2 separate regions of the Homo sapiens genome follow, and region 2 is linked to region 1. Evidence: fine-mapped expression QTL. Tissue or cell type: whole blood. Region 1 holds a variant in brackets; the other region holds the start of a gene. All regions are shown on one strand. Distances are from middle to middle. Region 1 has its middle 21 kb from the start of CPPED1. Region 2 holds the start of CPPED1 (calcineurin like phosphoesterase domain containing 1).

Region 1 (9,750 bases):
GATCACCTGAGGTCAGGAGTTTGAGACCAGTCTGGCCAACATGGAGAAACCCCATTTCTACTAAAAATACAAAAATTAGCCGGGTGTGGTGGTGTGCGCCTATAATCCCAGCTACTCAGGAGGCTGAGGCAGGAGAATTGCTTGAACCTGGGAGGCGGAGGTTGCAATGAGCCAAGGTCACTCCACTGCACTCTAGCCTGGGTGACAGAGCAAGACTATGTATCAAAAAAATAATAATAAAATAAAATAAAATAAAGAAATAATGAAAAATATTTAGTTTTCTTTTTTTCCTTTCTTTTCTTCATTTTTTGAGACAGGGTATTGCTCTGTCATCCAGGCTGGAGTCCAGTGGCACAATGTCAGCTCACTGCAGCTTTGAACACCTGGGCTCAAGCAATTCTCCCACCTCAGCCTCCCAAGTAGCTGAGACTAAGGTGGGTGCCACCACACCTGCTAATTATTTTCCGTAGATACGAAGTCTTGTTATGTTGCCCAGGGTGATTTCAGACTCCTGGGCTCAAGCGATCTTTCCACCTTGGCTTCCCAAAGTGCTGGGATCACAGGCATGAGCCACTGCATCTGGCCCATGATTTAATTTTTGAACAAGCAGATTTTGAGGGATTTTGAAGTGAGAAAAGCCGAATTCTGGTTATGGCTCTGCCAAATGTGAACAATGAACCCATCACATAACCCTTCTGAGCCCAAGCCACTTGATCTTTAAAAAAAGAGGGCACTGGCTGGGCATGATGGCTCACACTGGTAATCCCAGCACATTGGGAGGTCAAGGTGGGTGGATCACTTGAGGTCAGTAGTTTGAGACCAAACTGCCCAACATAGTGAAAGCCCGTTTCTACTAAAAATACAAAAATTAGCTGGGTGTGGTGGCGCATGCCATTAGTCCCAGCTATTCGGGAGACTGAGGCATGAGAATCGCTTAAACCTGGGAGGTGGAGGTTGCAGTGAGCTGAGATTGCACCACTGCACTCCAGCCTGGGTGACAGAGTGAGACTCTATCTCAAAAAATAAAAATAAATAAATAATGGAGGCACTGCGTTAGATCAGAAGAGCAAATGGGTAGCAGATATGGTTTGTTTATTCTACACAGGGTTTTACATTTTAATTTTCTAGCAACATTTGACAATTGGGAGATGATACACAAAAGCTCAGACTTGTGCCTCCAGAAACTGGCAGAAGCTGATCCCTGTAGATAGGACATGTGGTCCCCTGTTTTTCCACAGCCCCCACCATGCCCTATTGTATTCCTGATGGTGAGGTCCAGTATCAGTTGCCATTTGCCACCTACACCCAGCCTGCTTTATATTTATGTTACCTTCCTGGCCCCCTGAGCCATTCAGTTTGAGGTCTCTGGATTAAACACTCTCTAAAGTTCCTTTCAGCTCAGTGTGTCTATAGTTCACCTCTATATCCACTGGAAATACAAGTCCAGTGAGAAATCAGAGCTAGTGGTGCAGATTTGGAAATTACATGAGTAGAGATGATAGTAAGATCTTTGTATGAGTCCATTTTCACACTACTATAAAGAGCTACCTGAGATTGGATAATTTTATGAAGAAAAGTGGTTTAATTGACTCATAGTTCTGCAGCCTGTGCAGGAGGAATGGTTGGGGAGGCCTCAGGGAACTTACAGTCATGGCGGAAGGCAAAGGGGAAGCCGGCACGTCTTCCCGTGGCAGAGCAGAAGAGCGAGAGGGTGAAGGGGAAAGTGCTACACACTTTTGAATAAACAGATCTCATGAGAACTCACTATCACAAGAATAGCAAGTGAGAAATCCGCCCCCATGATCCAATCACCTCCCACAAGGTCCCTCCTCCAACACTGGAAATCACAATTCGATGGGAGATTTGGGTGAGGACACAGAGCCAAACCATATAACCCTTGAGCTACATCATGGGTGTAAGTGTAAAAAAAAAAAAAAAAAGAAAAAAAAAGAAGAACAGAGAACTGAGGACAGAGAATATTCACCTATGGCTAAGGATGGTTAAGGTTAAGAACATGAGAAGGATGAAAGGACACAGAAAAGAAGAGTTTAGATGGAATCGTGCTAGGTAATGGAAACAAGAGAAGTCTCAAGGAGGCTGTATTAGTCCATTTTCATGCTGCTGATAAAGACATACCTGAAACTGGGCAATTTACAAAAGAAAGAGGTTTAATGTTTTTACAGTTCCACATGGCTGGGGAGGCCTTGCAATTATTGCAGAAGGTGAAAGCCATGTCTCACATGGCGGCAGACAAGAGAAGAATGAGGTAGCTTGTGCAGGGAAACTCCCATTTTTAAAACCATCAGATCTGGTGAAACTTATTCACTATCATGAGAACAGCATGGGAAAGACCCGCCTCCCGATTAGCTGGGATTACAGGCACTCACCACCACGTCTGGCTAATTTTTGTATTTTTAGAAGAGACAGGGTTTCACCATGTTGGCCAGGCTGATGTCAAACTCCTGACCTCAGGTGATCCACCTGCCTTGGCCTCCCAAAGTGTTGAGATTACAGGCAAGAGCCACTGCGCCCGGCCCTCAGCTGTGTTCCTGAGCAGTGCTGGCCACTGTCCCCAGTGCTGTGCTGTGACAACCCACCATCCAGTTGTAAACATCTCTATCACAATGTGCACAACAGCCGCAAGCACAACACAGTATGACATTCAGCCATGCAGTTCTTGACACAGATTATTAGAGCAAAAGACATTCAAAAACAAGAGAGCAAGGAGATTTGCTTTCCTGTTTTGTCCCTGCCTTATGAGAAGAAGCTGTTCTTTGGAAACAGTATGTCCTGGGTCAAGTCCATGTTAAAAATTACATGAAGCTAACACTGGCTCAAGGCTTTTAGAGTCCCAAGAACTGCAATCGTAGTGCCCCTTTCTTCGTAATGGAAATAATACCAAAATCAGGATGAGAAAGCCCAATAAAATTCTGATGTTTTTCTATCATTGGCACTTAGATGCTTATATTTTTGAAATATTGTATATCGAATTCTTTCCAATTTTTTTTTTCTCCTTATCCAACCCTTTTTTGCTGGTGGACTGTTCATGTTTTCTTGGCCATCTGAGTGTTCTGACGTTACAGTTAATGCAAAGGGTAATGTGTGAAATTGAAGGAACTTCTTTAAACCTCCACGGAAGTTTTATTGCCTGATAAAATTATGGTCTTCATGAAATACTAAAGCAATAAAGGACAAATGAGTTTCTTTTATTTTCTTTTTTGTTGTTGTTGACATGGTTTTGTTCTGTCACCCAGGCTGGAGTGCAGTGGCGCAGTCACGGCTCCCTGCAGCTTTGATGTCCCAGGCCCGAGTGATCCTCTCACCTCAGTCTCCTGAGTAGTTGGGACTACAGGCACACACCACCATGCCTCGCTAAATTTTTTTTTTTTTGACACAAGTTCTTGCTCTGTCACGCAGGCTGGAGTGCAATGGTGTGATTATGGCTCACTGCAATCTTCACCTCCCAGGCTCAAGTGTTCCTCCCATTTCAGCCTCCTGAGTAGCTGGGACTACAGGTATGCATCACAATGCCTGGCTAATTTTTTTTTTTTTTTTAAGAGACGGGGTACAGGGTTTCACCATGTTACCCAGGCTGGTCTTGAACTACTGGACTCAAGTGATCCACCTCCTGTGACTCAAGTGATCCACTGGCCTTGACCTCCCAAAGTCATTGTTTTGCATGGCCTAGGAATGTTATTTTGTCAGCTGTTTTCTTTACTTAATACGCTGATGTCATATATACCAATATATATGTGTGTGTATGTAAATGTTGATATGCCATATATGTGTATGTATAAAATAGTCCACAGTTTTACAGTTGCACGTGGATTCTGAAGTTGTTTCAAATGCTGTTCTTTTAGGTAGAACTCTATGAAATTGCTGTGTTCATTGGTCAAAAATGGCCAAATACCAGTCATTTCATATGGTTCAACCTACTATCTATGAGGACTATTGCAATAAACAGCTTAAATATATTGGTGCTCTTTTTTGGAGAATTTCTTTAGGATAAGTTCCTAGAAATGGGATTATTGGGCTAAATAGCACATACACATAAATTGTTGATGGGTTTTGTCACCATGTTCTCTTTCCCATCAATAGTGTAAGGGGCTCCCCAATATCCCTCACACTTGGCAAACTAAACTATAAGTTATGGGTAAACCAGTTTACTCTTTTTTTTTTTTTTTTTTTTTTAAGATGGAGTCTTACTCTGTCACCCAGGCTGGAGTGCAGTGGTGCAATGTTGGCTCACTGCAACCTCTACCTCCCAGGTTCAAGCAATTCTCCTGCCTCAGCCTCCCAAGTAGCAGGGACTACAGGCGTGAGTCACCATACCCAGCTAAATTTGTATTTTTAGTAGAGACAGGGTTTCACCATGTTGGCCAGGCTGGTCTCGAACTCCTGGCCTCAGATGATCCGCCTGCCTTGGCCTCCCAAAGTGCTGGGATTACAGGCTTGAGCCACTGTGCCCAGCCCTAAACTGGTTTACTCTTATGAAGTATGTATGCACTCCTCTTTCTGTGGATCTTTGTTTCCCGTTGCCTCTCTTTGGGGTGATCTTTCCTCTGGCATGCAGATACTCAGGTGCCCCCCTCAACTTGCATTGCACAAGAATCAGGCAGTAGAAACTGTGAGCCCAAACAGATGTGCCAGACAGGTCTCAATCAATTTAGAAAGTTTATTTTGTCAAGGTTAAAGACATGCCTGTGACACAGCCTTAGAATTTCCTGATGACATGTGCCCAAGGTGGTTAGGATACAGCTCGCTTCTATACCTTTTAACTAGACATCAGTCAATCAATACATGTGAGATGTACATTGGTTCGAGCTGGAAAGGCAGGACAACTCGAGACGGGGGCTTCCAGGTTATAGGTTGATTTAAAGATTGTCTGGGCTGGGCGTGGTGGCTCCTATAATCCCAGCACTTTGGGAGGCTGAGGCGGATGGATCACGAAGTCAGGAGTTCAAGACCAGCTTGTCAACATGGTGAAACCCCGTGTCTACTAAAAATACAAAAAATTAGCCTGGCATGGTGGCGGGTACCTGTAATCCCAGCTACTCGGGAGGCTGAGGCAGGCGAATCGCTTGAACCCGGGAGGCGGAGGTTGTAGTGAGCTGAGATCACACCATTGCACTCCAGCCCAGGCAATAGTGTGAGACTCCATCTCAAAAAAAAAAAAAAAGAAAAAGAAAGAAAAAAAGAAAATGAAATTATGAAAAAAAAAAAAAGATTTTCTGATGGGCAATTGACTAAAAGAGTTAAGTTATTATCTAAAGACCTGGAATCAATATAAAGGAATATCTCGGCTATGATAATGGGTTGTAGAGACCAAAGTATTATCATGCAGAAGAAGCCTCCAGGTAGCAGGCTTTGGAGATAATAGATTGTAAATGGTTTTTTTTTTTTCTTTTCTTTTCTTTTTTTTTTTTTTTTGAGACAGAGTCTTGCTCTGTCTGTC[G/A]CCCAGGCTGGAGTGCAGTGATGTGATCTTGGCTCACTGCAACCTCTGCCTCCTGGGATCAAGCGATTTTCTGCCTCAGACTCCTGAGTAGCTGGGATTACAGGCATCCACTACCATGGCCAGCTAATTTTTCTATTTTTAGTAGAGATGGGTTTTCACCATGTTGCCCAGGCTGGTCTTGAACTCCTCCTGGCCTCAAGTGATCTGCCTGCCCTGGCCTCCCAAAATGTTGGGATTACAGGCATGAGCCACCGTGCCTGGCCTGTAAATGTTTCTTATCAACTTTAAGGTCTGTGTTGATGTTAATGCTGGTTGGCTTTTCCTGAATTTCAAAAGCAGGGAGAGTATAAGGAGGCATGTCCGACTCTCCCCCAACCATGGTCTGAACTAGTTAGGTTAACTTTGGAATGTCCTTGGCTAAGAGGAGGGGGTCCATTCACATGGGCCTTAGAATTTTATTTTTTGTTTACAAAACTGAAACTGTGCCTCCTTTTGTGACAACTGTAACATTGAATTTCCTGGTATGTGATTTCTAAAAAAACTGATTTATATATTTAAAATTCCTGTATATCACATTAATTATTTCCTGAGTTTGGTGTGCATCATGAGTACAGAATATTATCAATAAAATAAAAGTAAATTTAAAGTAAGCTGACAAGGTGCCAGCTCCAATGTTAAGCATTTGTTTTATTGAATCTTTACAGCCACGCTGAGAAGTAAGTATTGGCATCCACATTTTACATAGAAAAAACTTGGGCTCAGAGAGGTTAATTCTCTCATCCAAGGTGGCATAGCTACTGTATTGATGATCTATTGCTACTTGACATGGTTTGGCTGTGTCTGTACCCAAATCTCACTTGAATTGTAATAATCCCCACGTGTCAAGAGCAGGGCCAGGTGGAGATAATTGAATCATAGGGGTGGTTCCCCCATACTGTTCTTGTGGTAGTGAGTTTCACAATATCTGATGGTTTTATAAAGGGAGTTCCCCTGCACATGTTCTCTTGCCTGCTGCCAGGTAAGACGTGACTTTGCTCCTCCTTTGCCTTCTGCCATGATTGTGAGGCCTCCCTAGCCATGTTGGAACTGTGAGTCCAACACGTCCCTTCAACCTCTTTCCTTTATAAATTATCCAGTCTCTGCTATGTCTTTATCAGCAGCATGAGCACAGACTAATACACTACTTAACAAATTACCACAAACTTAGCAGCCTTAAATGACAAATATTTATTATTTGACAGTTGCTGGGAGCCAGGAGTTTGGGCAAAGCTTAGCTAAATACTCTGCTTATGGGTTCTCAAGAGGCTATAACTGAGGAGTCAGTCAGGGTGGGGGTCACCTCTGAAGACTCAGCTGGGGAAAGGTCTGCTTTGCAACTTCACTTACATGGCTGTTGGAAGGATTCAGTTCCTTCAGGTTTCTTGGCCCAAGGGCTTCAGTTTCCTGTTGGCTGGAGGCCACCTTCAGTTCCTTGGCACATGGCACTTTCTAACATGGTGGCTCACAACATGGAAACTTGCTTCATCAAAGCAGCAAGGGACAGAAACTTCTAGCAAGACAAAACTCACATCTTGTGTAGTTTCATCACAGAAGTAGCATCCAATTACTTTGACCATATTCTGTTGGTTAGAATCAAGCCACCAGGGCAATACACACTTAGGGGAGAGGATTACACAAGTGCACAAAGACCAGGAGGTGGGAATCACTGGGGCCATATCGAGTCTACCTGCCACAGCAATTGAAGAGCAAAGCTGGGATGTGAAGCCAGTTTCATCCAAGTCTGAAGCTCCCAACAGTTAACCATTAAGCTCCACTGCCTTCCACAGAAATTAATCTGATTACTTTTTAGAAATATTAATCTGGTTATTCCAACATGGACTGCAGTGTTTATCTCAATGGGTTACCCTTTTAAATCTGTTCTCTCAAGTGAGAACTGAAAGATCCATCCAAAGTGAATGAATTCACTAGTTTTATGAATTTTCTTAAGAGGTAACTTTAGAAAGGAAGACTAATGACCTTAAGACTTCCAATGCTAAATCTTGACCCTGAGCTATTAGACCTAGCCTTCCTATATGATTTTTAGAACATCTGACCAATTTGCATAAAGAAATATACAAATCGGGCAGATGATTAGATTCAAAGAAGATAAACAAAACTTCCCTGGGAGAAAGAATTTAGATTATTCCCTCAACCTTTTTTCCCTCCCCTTTTATGTCTTGAATCTGTAACTAAGTTCAGAATTAAAATGACTAGTCTTAACAAACATCTTCAGACTCAGCCATACATCTGTGTATAATTTGGTTTGTGGGAGAGCAGGAGGACTGGTTCATGGGGCATCTTTGTGGGCAGCAATATATCTTCATTTATTGAAATGTTCCTAGCAACAGAAGTTGTTTTCTTTATCGCCCCCAAATCCTCAAAGTAGAAACAGGCAAAAATGATGACAAGAAATCTAGAAAATTGTAGATGTATTTTCATTTTTTTAAAGTGTAACTTGTGTTGTAAGTATATTTCCTGGCATTTGCCAACATAAAGTCAAAAGCTTTTTTTAAAAAAATTTTAATGACAAACATGAGTTCATGTGCAATTTTTTTTTCCCCAAAAGCTAACATATGGGACAGCAGTTAAATGCTGTCCTGTCATACTGCTTAGAGATTGCTTTGGCATTTCAATTGTATTTCCCTGGCATGATGATTTTTCTTTGGCTATTTTCATATTATTCTACTTTGCATGCATTCAGAATGTACCAGCTCAATTCCTTCTGCAAAGTAACAACAACAAAATTTATTAAAAATTGTTAATGATCACTTACTGTGTAGTCATTCTAGGCTACACACTTTCCATGCATTATTTCATGCTGTTTTCATAATAATCCTAAAACCTAGGTAATTATCTGATTTTATAGATAAGGAAAATGAAGCTTGTGGCTCAGAGAACTTAAGTAATTTGCCCAAGGCCACACAGCAAGTAATTAGTAGAGCAGGATTGGAGAGCATGCTCTTTGGACTATGCAATACTGCATAGGCAATGAGTGATGAATGAATGAATGAGTGACTACTGAGCTCAATTAGAGCAGAACTTACCTGTGTTTTTTGTTTTTTTTTTTGAGATGGATTCTTGCTCTGTTGCCCAGGCTGGAGTGCAGTGGCATGATCTCAGCTCACTGCAACCTCTGCCTCCCAGGTTACAGCGATTCTCCTGCCTCAGCCTCCCAAGTAGCTGGGATTACAGGCATGCACTACGAGACCTGGCTAATTTTTTATTATTAGTAGAGATGGGGTTTCACCATGTTGGCCAGGAGGTCGAACTCCTGACCTCAGGTGATCCACCTGCCTCGGTCTCCCTAAGTGCCAGGATTACAAGTGTGAGCCACCGCCACGCCTGGCCCCTTACTTGTAATTGTATGAGTAAATCAGAGTTTCTCATTTTCTCCCATCCTCCATTGGCAAAGAGTGCAGGATAATGAGACCTCAGGCTTTGTGGGTATTTGTGTTGGCGAAGACCATAGGCTGTGGAGTCAGACAGAGCTATATTCCAATTCAGGCTTACAGCTTTTCAGCTGTACGACCTTGGCCAAGTTCTATAACCTTACTGAGCCTCAGTTTGCTCTTACAAAAAGAGCAGGAATAATGAGTTTTCATCAAGGCCATTTGCAAACAAGGATCTATTTAGTGAAATAAATATGAGTGTATCCATGTCATACAGTTGATGTGAGGATTCTATGAGGGTATACACATAAAGCACTTACTTAGCACAGTGCCTGAAGGTATGGATAAATGCTTACTCCTTGGTAGTTACCATAATTATAATATCACATGGAGTTATGAAAAGTTGGATTTGAGTTCTGATTCTTTCACTTATTAGCTCTGTGACTAGCAGTAAGATATCTCTCTGAGACTCAGTTTCCCTATCTGTAAAATGGGTATCACAATATCGCCCTTGCCGTGAACGATGCTGTGAAAAATTGTATGGAAGTGGTTCTCAAATGTCACCCAGAAATAGTTGGCAGTGTTTGAAGACATCCTGGCCGTCATACTGAGGGGAGGTGGTGGTGGTGCTACTGGCATCTAGGGGGTAGAGGACAGGGACGCTGCTGAACATCCTATAATGCCCATGGCAGCCCCTACAACTCAGCATTATCTGGCCCCAAATACCAATGGTTCCAAGGTGGAGAAATCCTTTGGAATGGGCATTTCACGCAGAGCTAGTGCACAGGAAATGCTAGCTATAATATTATTATGTTTTGTCATTTTGAGTTTCCATTTTTTTTTCTTTTTTCTTTTTTTTTTTTTTTG
Region 2 (9,750 bases), 22 kb before region 1:
TGGAAAAACAGATTCAGACCTAAAAATAATTAAGTCACTTTAAAAGCATATTTTATCTTGATCTCTCTCCCTTTTAGGATTTCTTCAAAACAGAAGCCATAAACTTCTCAAAAGACAATTACTAGAAGAAAGTAGTCCTAATTAGGATATGTGTCAAGAAAACCTAATTATCAATTTGCCTAATTAAAATGAATATCTGAACATGCCTTAGGAATGTGAGCTTTCTCAGGTGAGACATGTACAATTTTTTTTAATCAACATCCGTCAACAGAGCCTAGCACATTATGTTAACAGGGAACGGATGACTGAAACCAAGTGTCACACATACCACTACTGGAAGGAGTTGATGGGAATACTGTTACTCACGTAAATCACCGGTGGGAGGAAATGGGTCTTAAAGCAAAGCGCTCTTTCATTTAATTGGCAGGCTACACTTGGAAAACAAACTGCTCAATGAGCTGATTCTGCAGCAAAGGTGAAGGGTTCAGAGCTGTGATTTTTAGGGACTGTTGCTTGAGTTAATCAAACCCCTTTGATGGTGTGTGTTTTGGCAAGAGAAGGGGAAAAGTCAGTTTTTTTTTTTTTTTTTTTTGAGACACAGTCATCACTCTGTCTCCTAGGCTAGAGTGCAGCGGGCAATCTTGGCTTACTGCAACCTCCGCCTCTCAGGTTCAAGTGATTCTCCTGCCTCAGCCTCCCAAGTAGCTGGGATTACAGGTGCCTGCCACCACACCCGGCTAATTTTTTTAATTTTAGTAGAGATGGGGTTTCGCCATGTTGGCCAGACTGGTCTTAAACTCCTGGCCTCAAGCAATCCACCTGCCTCGGCCTCCCAAAGTGCAGGAATTACAGGCGTAAGCCACTGCTCCCAGCCTCGAAAAGCTAGTTCTTTAACTTTCTCAGTCTGCCCAAGGGGCAAATCTACTGGCTTCCCAAGGAGTCTGGAGAGGCCTCTGATGCCTCTAAGGGCACCTCTCCAAGTTGCCAGCGATGCTAATAGAGTCAGGACCCCGGGGAATTGTCAATGAGTGCAATGGAAGCAGCAATGGTAGGCTAGGGTTCAGCACCTAGTAATGTGAACCCACAAACCTGGGGTTCTCAGCAGAACACTCTGAGGCTGGGCCTCTCTAGGCCCTCCGTTAAATGACCCATCCTGGGTGTGTCTATGGGACTGCATGGCTCACAGAGGAGATCAAGTGCTGGCCCCACTTCTAGATTTACTCGGGGCTAAGAAAAGTTCAGAGTCACTCTCTCCTCCTATCAGCAGGGTAGGTATCTTATAGATTTATCATCAAGTCTCTCTCCAGCATCCCCATTCTTATCCAGGGGAGCTGCTCTCTGATCCTCTGGTCCCAGTGGTGGCCCCCTGGCAGCTGCAATGGCCTAGGAAGCTACTATACCTCAGCACTCCCACCATCTCCACTGAAAGACACCCCGTGCCCAATAGGCACCTCCAGCTACAGCAAATAAACACATTCAAAGTAAACAATGGGGGCCAAGTGCGGTGGCTCATGCCTGTAAATCCCAGCACTTTGGGAGGCCGAGGTGCCTGAGGTCAGGAGTCCCAGACCAGCCTGGCCAACATGGCGAAACCCTGTCTCTACTAAAAACACAAAAATTAGCGGGCATGGTGGTACATGCCTGTAATCCCAGCTACTCGGGAGGCTGAAGCAGGAGAATCGTTTGAACGTGGGAGGTGGAGGTTGCAGTGAGTAGCATCACTGCACTGCAGTCTGGGTGACAGAGCTAGACTCTGTCTCAAAAAAAAAAAAAAAAAAGTAAACCATGGGGGACTACAGAAATGCAGCCTCTGGACAAATCCTTGAGCTCCAGCTTCCAACTGGATTGCATCCCAAGTTGCTCTAAAGTAGAAATGCTTTTGTTGCCATTGCTGCAATCAGACCACTCTTTTCAAAATAAAAATCTGATCATACATCCTTGCTTCCTCACACATCCAGCTTGAAACCTCTTGATGCTATTAGGACACGACAAAAATCCTTAGTTACCACCACCTCCCTCTCCAGCCTCAGCCCACACCATGTCCCAACCTCATCTTTCTGCTCCAGACTCAGAGACTTCCTTCAGCCCTCATCCTTCCCTTTCCCATCCTGCCATGTCCTAGGACTCTCACACTTGCTCTGCCCATGGTCCACATGGTCTTCCCTCCCTTCGTGGCCCAGTTAACTCATACTCCTCTTTTAGCAATCAGACGAAGCAACACTTCCTCAGGGAAACCCTGCGTGAATGACCTCAGAGCCCACCAGTAGCCAAGCATTATTTTTTGTGCCCTAGCTTTGTACCTGGATTATTACAAGCCTCTGAGAGCATGTAACTTGAACCACTCCCCCGCCCCCAACTTCCTATTCTCCACCATACTGGACAGTGCAATAGGAATATAAGAAATATTTATTTCCTTTCGGTTTTTTTGTTTGTTTGTTTTGAGCTGGAGTCTTGCTCTGTTGTCCAGGGTGGAGTGCAGTGGCACATTCTCGGCTCACTGCAACTTCTGCTTCCCAGGCTCAGGCAATTCTCCTGCCATAGCCTCCCAAGTAGCTAGGACTACAGGCATGTGCCACCACACCCAGCTAATTTTGTATTTTTAGTACAGATGGAGTTTCACCATGTTGACCATGCTGGTCTCGAACTCCTGACCTCAGGTGATCCACCCGCCTCAGTCTCCCAAAGTGCTGGGATTACAGGCGTGAGCCACCGCGGCCGGCCCTCAACAAATATATAGGCGTGAGCCACCGCAGCCAGCCCACAACAAATATTTCTTGAACTGAAAAAAAAAATAATACAGCAGAGTAACAGGGAACTCTCATATACTGCTGGTGGGAGTATAAATTGGCACTACCACTTTGGAAGGCAGTTTGACCACATCTAGTAATGCTGGGGATGATTATACCCTATAACCCAGAACATAGCTTGTAGGTATATGCCTCAGAGTAACTCTCCCATGTGTCCACAAAGAGATTTGTACAGAATGTTCATAACAGCACTGTTACCAAGGGCAAAAACCAGAAACAACTAAATGGCCATTGTATTAGTCAGGATCCTTGCAGGAAATAGTTGGCATTCTCAAATTAGGATGATTTTAAAAAGGGTTTAAAAAGGGATTACTTGGTGGGGGTTGGGTGGACGAAACCTACAAGGGAGTGTGGTAACCCAAGGTTAGAAAAGCAGAACCACTGCCACTCCCACGCCTCAAAGGAGGAAATGGTTACTCAAATCCAGAACTAGAGAGAATGAGGAGAAAAGCTGTCCTGAGAAAAGGAGCGACCTTGACCTTCAGGGGTGGGGAGGAAGACAGCCAGGCGAGGCAACCCCACAGAGTAAACTGCAAGAATAAATACAGCTGCCTTTTGCTTCTCTCCCTGCTCTGATTTCTTCTCAGGGCTCCCCACTGGCTGAGCCCAAAGGAAAACCAAAAGGCAAGGAGCCCACCGATGTAGCTCACGGAGGGCAAACCCCTGGGGCATGGTGGGGAAGGGAGAAAGGTTTGGAGAGGCAAAGGGAAGATATTCAGCATATACATCAACAGAATGTATAAGGTATATAATCATCCAATGGAATGTTGCCCAGCAAGAAAAGAGCAAAATCTTCATGTTGGACAAAAAAGACAAGGTCCATTAAAATACAGTCGTCCCAGGCCGGGCGCGGTGGCTCAGGTCTGTAATCCCAGCACTTTAGGAGGCTGAGGACGGCGGATCACCTGATGTTGTGAGTTCGAGACCAGCCTGGCCAACATGGAGAAACCCCATCTCTACTAAAAATACAAAATTAGCCGGGCGTGGTGGTGCGTGCCTATAGTTCCAGCTACTCCAGAGGCTGAGGCAGGAGAATCGCTTGAACCCGGGAGGCGGAGGTTACAGTGAGCCAAGATCGTGCCACTGCACTCCAGCCTGGGCAATAAAGCAAGACTCCGCCTTAAATGAATAAATAAGGTTTTACCATAGAATTACCGGAGAAACCTACTTTAGATAAGGTAGCAGGTAAAGTCTCTGAGGAAGTGAATGAACTTTAAAATGAGGTGTGACGGTTGAGAGAGCCAGGCTCACCAACCCTGCTAAAGAAGCAGAAAACAGCAAGCGCCAAGACCCTCAGGGAAAGAACGGCCTTGGCCCTTTTAAATGCAGTTCAAACAAGGGCAACAACAAAACCTGTTGCAGAACTGGGCAAGAGAGAGAATGACAACCCTGAAGGAAGTGGACACAAGCCTGATCATATAGGGCATTTAGGGTGACTTCCCTGGGGGTATAAAGCTGGTGAGAGCCTGGGAGGCGATCTGGCTGCAGGCAGCAAAAAGCCACAGAGGGGAATCAACAAACCAGAAACAAACCTCCCTCTTTACTTAGCACCTAGCATGCGTCCAACACCGGGTTACAAAAATACTTTTGATCTGTTTACGCTTCCAACAACCCTATGAGGCAGGTATTATCAAACCCATTTTTAAGGCAAAGCAGATAATCTAAATCCAAAATCCAAGCACTTCACTACGACTCTCGAATGCCCTCCCTCTCTACTGCTCTGATGGGGCAGTGTTACCATTTCGGTGAATGACTTAAATAAACGTCATTATGGAGTACAGAATACATAACGGTGAACAACCTTAATAAAACCGACACCCTCTAACATGCACCGAACGCTTATCCAGTAACACCCACAAGTATTCCCGTTTCACAGATGTGGAAGCTGAGGCCAAGATGCTAATGCACAGCTTGGAAACCAGGTCTCGCTGCAGAGTCCAAGCTGTCATTAACTATGCTTTGCTACCCTCCTCTTACTTCCCTTCTCTGGGGGAAGTTAGGTCAAGGCCAAGGAGGCTCCTAGACCAGATCGCTCTCTCGGCCTCGCCTCTCAACTGCGCCCCTGGAATCCCTAAGAGCAGGCTTTGATGCAGCTATGGCGGCTCCCAGGCCCCGGTGCAGCCCCGGATGGTGTCCGACTGGCGGAGCGCACACCTGAACAAAAGGTTCCCCCGGCGGAAGGTTCCGCAGCCCCAGAGTCCCCTCCCCGGGTGAGGGGCGGGCAGTACCTGCGGGAAACGCGGCCAGGGTCCTGCCCCTGGCTCTGTGGAAAACACCCCCCGCCTCTGCAGCCGACATGGCGAGCGAGTTTCTGGCCTTCACTTAGAACACTGCGTGGGTGGAAGCCGCGCGACTTCACACAGAACAACCGCTGGACCTGTCCCGCTTTGGGCGACGCCCTTTGATCTCGGGGCGGGACTGGGGCGGGACGGGGAGGGGCCCGGTGGCTCGGGGCGCCACTAGTGCTGCCTGGGCGGAGCGGAGGCGCCAGCGGCCCCTCTGGGATCGACCTGCGCGCCTGGCGAGTGGAGACTGTCTAGGGCACGCGTGGGCGGGGATAAGGCTTTGGGGTCAGTCCTTCCCTAAAGGCAGAGTTACTAGATTTAACAAGTAAAAATGCAGGACTCCCGGTTAAATTGGAATTTCAGATTTTTTTTTTTAAAGAATGACTGACTTGGTATAAATATGTCCTATGCAGTATTTGGGAGCTACTTACGTTAAATTTTTTTTTCATTATCTGAAATTCCAATTGAACTGGGCGTCCTAATTTTTTTAAATTTTTCTCTTTTTGCAGGTTTGAATGGAAGCGTCCTGATTTTTTTTTATCTGACAACTCTATCATAAAGTCAGAAGGAGCCACTGGGGTGGCTTACGCCTGTAACCCCAGCTCTTTGGGAGGCCAAGGAGGGAGGATCGCTTGAGTCCAGGTGTTGGAGACCAGCCTGGGCAACACGGCGAGAGACCTTGCCAATACAAAAAAAAAAAAAAAAAAGATGAAAAGGTGGACGTCTTGGAAGACTGTCTCAGCCTGAACTTCCCAGTGGCTGCCACCATCTTTCTGTTATTATCTTTGCTTGCTATGCACCAGGCAGGGCGCTAAGCACTTTGCACGCTGCTCACTTAATCCCCACTACAGCCCTAGGAGGTGGTGCTGTTATTAGCTGCATCCGTCATTTGGGGAAACTGACGCTCAGAGAGATGAACGAACTTGCACAAGGTGACACACATCTAGAGAGGTAGTAAAGCTGCGAGTAACCAAATTAGTGTCTCTTCAACTCAAGAGCCATTGTAGTGAACTACTTAGCCAGCATTTGTCAAACGTGTTGAAAATACAAATTCCAGAATGGACCTATTGAATCCAAATCTCTATGAAAATGATCTGTGTTTTGTTGTTGTTGTTGTTGTTTTGAGACAGGGTCTCACTCTGGTTGCCTAGGCTGGAGTGCAGTGGCACAATCTCTGCAGTCTCGATCTCCTGGGCTCAGGTGATTCTCCCACCTCAGCCTCCTAAGTGGCTGGCACTATTGGCGTGCGCCACCATGCCTGGCTAATACTTTGTATTTTTAGTAGAGACGAGTTTGACTATGTTGCCCAGGCTGATCTGGAACTCCTGAGCTCAAGCAATCCACCCACCCGGGCCTCCTAGAGTGCTAGGATTACAGGCATGAGCCACAGTGCCTGGCCTGAAAATGATCTGTTTTTAACAAGCACTGCAGGGGAGCTCTTATGATCTTACAAATTTGGGAAATTCTTTTCTAAACTAGCTGCCTACATCCAAAGCACTGTTTGAGTAGCTAATATGGCCATAACTACTGTTCTCTAATCCTTGACAAGAGTCACCCATGAATCATAGTGGTTAAGAGTATAAATGCCTATGAGTCCTGGAGTCAGTGGGCTTGGATTAATCCCGGTTCTACCCACTTACTGGTTGTATGCTCTTGAAAATTGCATAGTTTCTCTATGCCTCAGTTTCCCTATCTGTGAAATGGAAACAATAGTAGCATCTAGGTCATAGGGTTGCAGAAAGGCTTAAATGAGTTCATGTATCAAAGTGCTTAGAATAATAGTTCTAATAACAAATGGTAGGTACTCAATGAATATTAGCCATTGTTATTATTAATCAATCACTATAACCCTATTCCCTGAACATGGCCTGGCCCAGAGGAGGAGTCCCAAGAAATGTGAAGGAGGCCGGGCGCAATGGTTCAGGCCTGTAATGCCAGCACTTTGGGAGGTGGAGGTGGCGGATCATGAGGTCTACAGATCGGGACCACCCTCGCCAACATGGTGAAACCTCATCTCAACTAAAAATACAAAAATTAGCTGGGTGTGGTGGTGCACGCCTGTAGTCCCAGCTACTCGGGATGCTAAGGCAGGAGAATCACTTGAACCCGAGAGGCAGAGGTTGCAGTGAGCCGAGATCCCGCCGCTGCACTCCAGCCTGAGCGACAGAGTGAGACTGTGTCTTTAAAAAAAAAAAATGTGAAGGGGAAGCTGAGCACAATGGCTCATGCTTGTAATCCCAGCATTTTGGGAGGTTTAGGCAGGAGGATTACTTGAGCCCAGGAGTTCAAGACCAGCCTGAGCAACATAGTGAGAACTCATCTCTATTAAAAAATTTTTTTTAATTAAAAGAAATGTGAAGGAGAGAATGAATTATAGAAACAGACCCTGCCTCTTATTCACTAGCTTTGCAGTCATACTGGCCATTCAGTTCATTAAACATGCAAATTAATTTCCCTCTCTGCATATGCAGTTCTTTCTGCTTAAAATGCCTCTTCCCAGCTGGGCACCGTGGCTCATGCCTATAATCCCAGCATTTTGGGAGGCCAAGGCAGGTGGATCACGAGGTCAAGAGATCAAGACCATCCTGGCCAACATGGTAAAACCCTGTCTCTACTAAAAATACAAAAATTAGCCAGATGTGGTGGCGCGTGCCTTTAATCCCAGCTACTCGGGAGGCTGAGGCAGGAGAATTGCTTGAACCCGGGAGGCGGAGGTTGCAGTGAGCTGAGATCGCGCCACTGCACTCCAGCCTGGTGAAAGAGCAAGACTCTGTCTGAAAAACGAACAAACAAACAAAAAAGTATCTTCCCCTGCTGAGCTAAAGCCCATTTGAACATGAAGGCCTGCAGTTAAATAACACTTCTGTGGAGAGGCCATGCCCTACCCATTTGCACACTTTGCTGATCTAAACTAGGCCTCCCTCATTCTTTGTTAGAGCACTATGTTCTTGTCCCTTGTTGCACTTTGCACAGTTGATAATTATATGTTTTCAGGTGTAATTATTTATTTAATGTTGACTTTCCCGACTCAACTATAAGGTCTATTAAGTTGGTTACCTTTTTAAAAAATTTACTGTTTTGGCCGGGCACAGTGTCTCACGCCTGTAATCCCAGCACTTTGGGAGGCCAAGGCAGGCAGATCATTTGAGGTCAGGAGATCGAGACCAGTCTGGCCAACATGGTGAAACCCCATCTGTACTGAAAATATAAAAATTAGGTAGGCATGGGAGCACGCCTGTAATCCCAGCTACTTGGGAGGCTAAGGCAGGAGAATCACTTGAACCTGGGAGGCGGAGGTTGCAGTGGGCCAAGATCGTGCCACTGCACTCTAGCCTGAGTGACGAAGTGAGACTCTGTCTCAAAAAAAAAATTATTATTTATAAAGATGGTGTCTCACTGTTATCCAGGCTGGTCTTGAACTCCTGGCCTCAAGTGATCCTCCTGCCTCAGCCTCCCAAAGTGTTAGGATTACAAGCATGAGCCGCCACGCCCAGCTGAGGGCAGTTACCTTGACTGTCTAGCTCACCAAGCAGGATGCCTGAGGCATAGACACTAAATGTTTGTTGCATTAATAAATAAATGGATTATGAATATCTCAACAAGATAACCATATTTTGAACCTCAGCAGCAATTGGGAATAGATCTATAGGCCAATCTGGAGCAACTTCAAAACTGTACCAGTGCATTGGATGATAGCAATAGCTGCAATTGTGAAAGGAAAATAAATATTGAGACCCCAAAATCACTAAGCCAAGGGGAAAAGTCAGGCTGGGAGCTGCTTAGGGCAAACCTGCCTCCCACTCTATTGCTGAAACAGACAGCTACTAAGGCTGGGTACAGTGGCTTACACCTGTTATCCCAGCACTTTGGGAGGCCGAGGCAGGAGGATCACTTGAGGTCAGGAGTTTGAGACCAGCCTGGCCAACATGGTGAGACATCCATCTGTACTAAAAATACAAAAACTAGCCAGTTGTAGTGGTGCATGCCTATAATCCCAGCTACTCGGGAGGTTGAGGCAGGAGAATCGCTTCAAACCACAAGACGGAGGTTGCAGTGAGCTGAGATTGTGCCACTGCGCTCCAGCCTGGGTGACAGAAGGAAACTGTCTCAAAAAAAAAAAAAAAAAAACCTACTAAGATAAAAAAGCTACGTACGTCGCTCAGAAGGAATTTCCTTGTAGACAAAGGACAGACAGAACTCAAAGTTATCCCTCTGCTCACTGAGATAAATGCATTTCTGACTGCCTCCTCTGGAAAAGCTAATCAGAAACTGGAAAGAATGCAACCTTTTTTTTTTTTTATTCCCCCGAGACAGAGTCTTGCTGTGTTGCCCAGGCTGGAGTGCAGTGGCATGATCTCTGCTCACTGCAACCTCTGCCTCCCAGGTTCAAGCGATTCTCCTCCCTCAGTCTCCTAGGTAGCTGGGGTTACAGGCATCTGCCACCACGCCCAGCTAATTTTTGTATTTTTAGTAGAGACGGGGTTTTGCCGTGTTGGCCAGGCTGGTCTTGAACTCCTGACCTCAGGTGATCTGCCCGCCTCAGTCTCCCAAAGTCCTGGGATTACAGGCATGAGCCACCGTGCCCAGCCACCTTTTGTCTCTTATCTACCTGTGACCTGGAAGCCCCCTCCCCACTTCGGGTTGTCTCGCCTTTCCAG

Evidence for each region.
Region 2: it holds the start of CPPED1, and the variant in region 1 is fine-mapped to the expression of CPPED1 in whole blood (TOPMed, PIP above 0.99).

Annotation. Positions count from the first base shown.
Region 1 is chr16:12,820,342-12,830,091 of GRCh38, forward strand. No RefSeq gene overlaps it. Among named protein-coding and RNA genes, the nearest start is that of CPPED1, 21 kb to the left of the region's middle. The variant G/A (reference allele first, on the strand shown) is at 5,456.
Region 2 is chr16:12,798,672-12,808,421 of GRCh38, forward strand. It overlaps CPPED1 (calcineurin like phosphoesterase domain containing 1), which reads right to left and starts at 5,216. Exons shown (of 4, transcript NM_018340.3): 1 at 5,036-5,216. The coding sequence starts at 5,105. RefSeq lists enhancers at 3,396-3,475, 4,798-5,167 and a silencer at 5,248-5,297.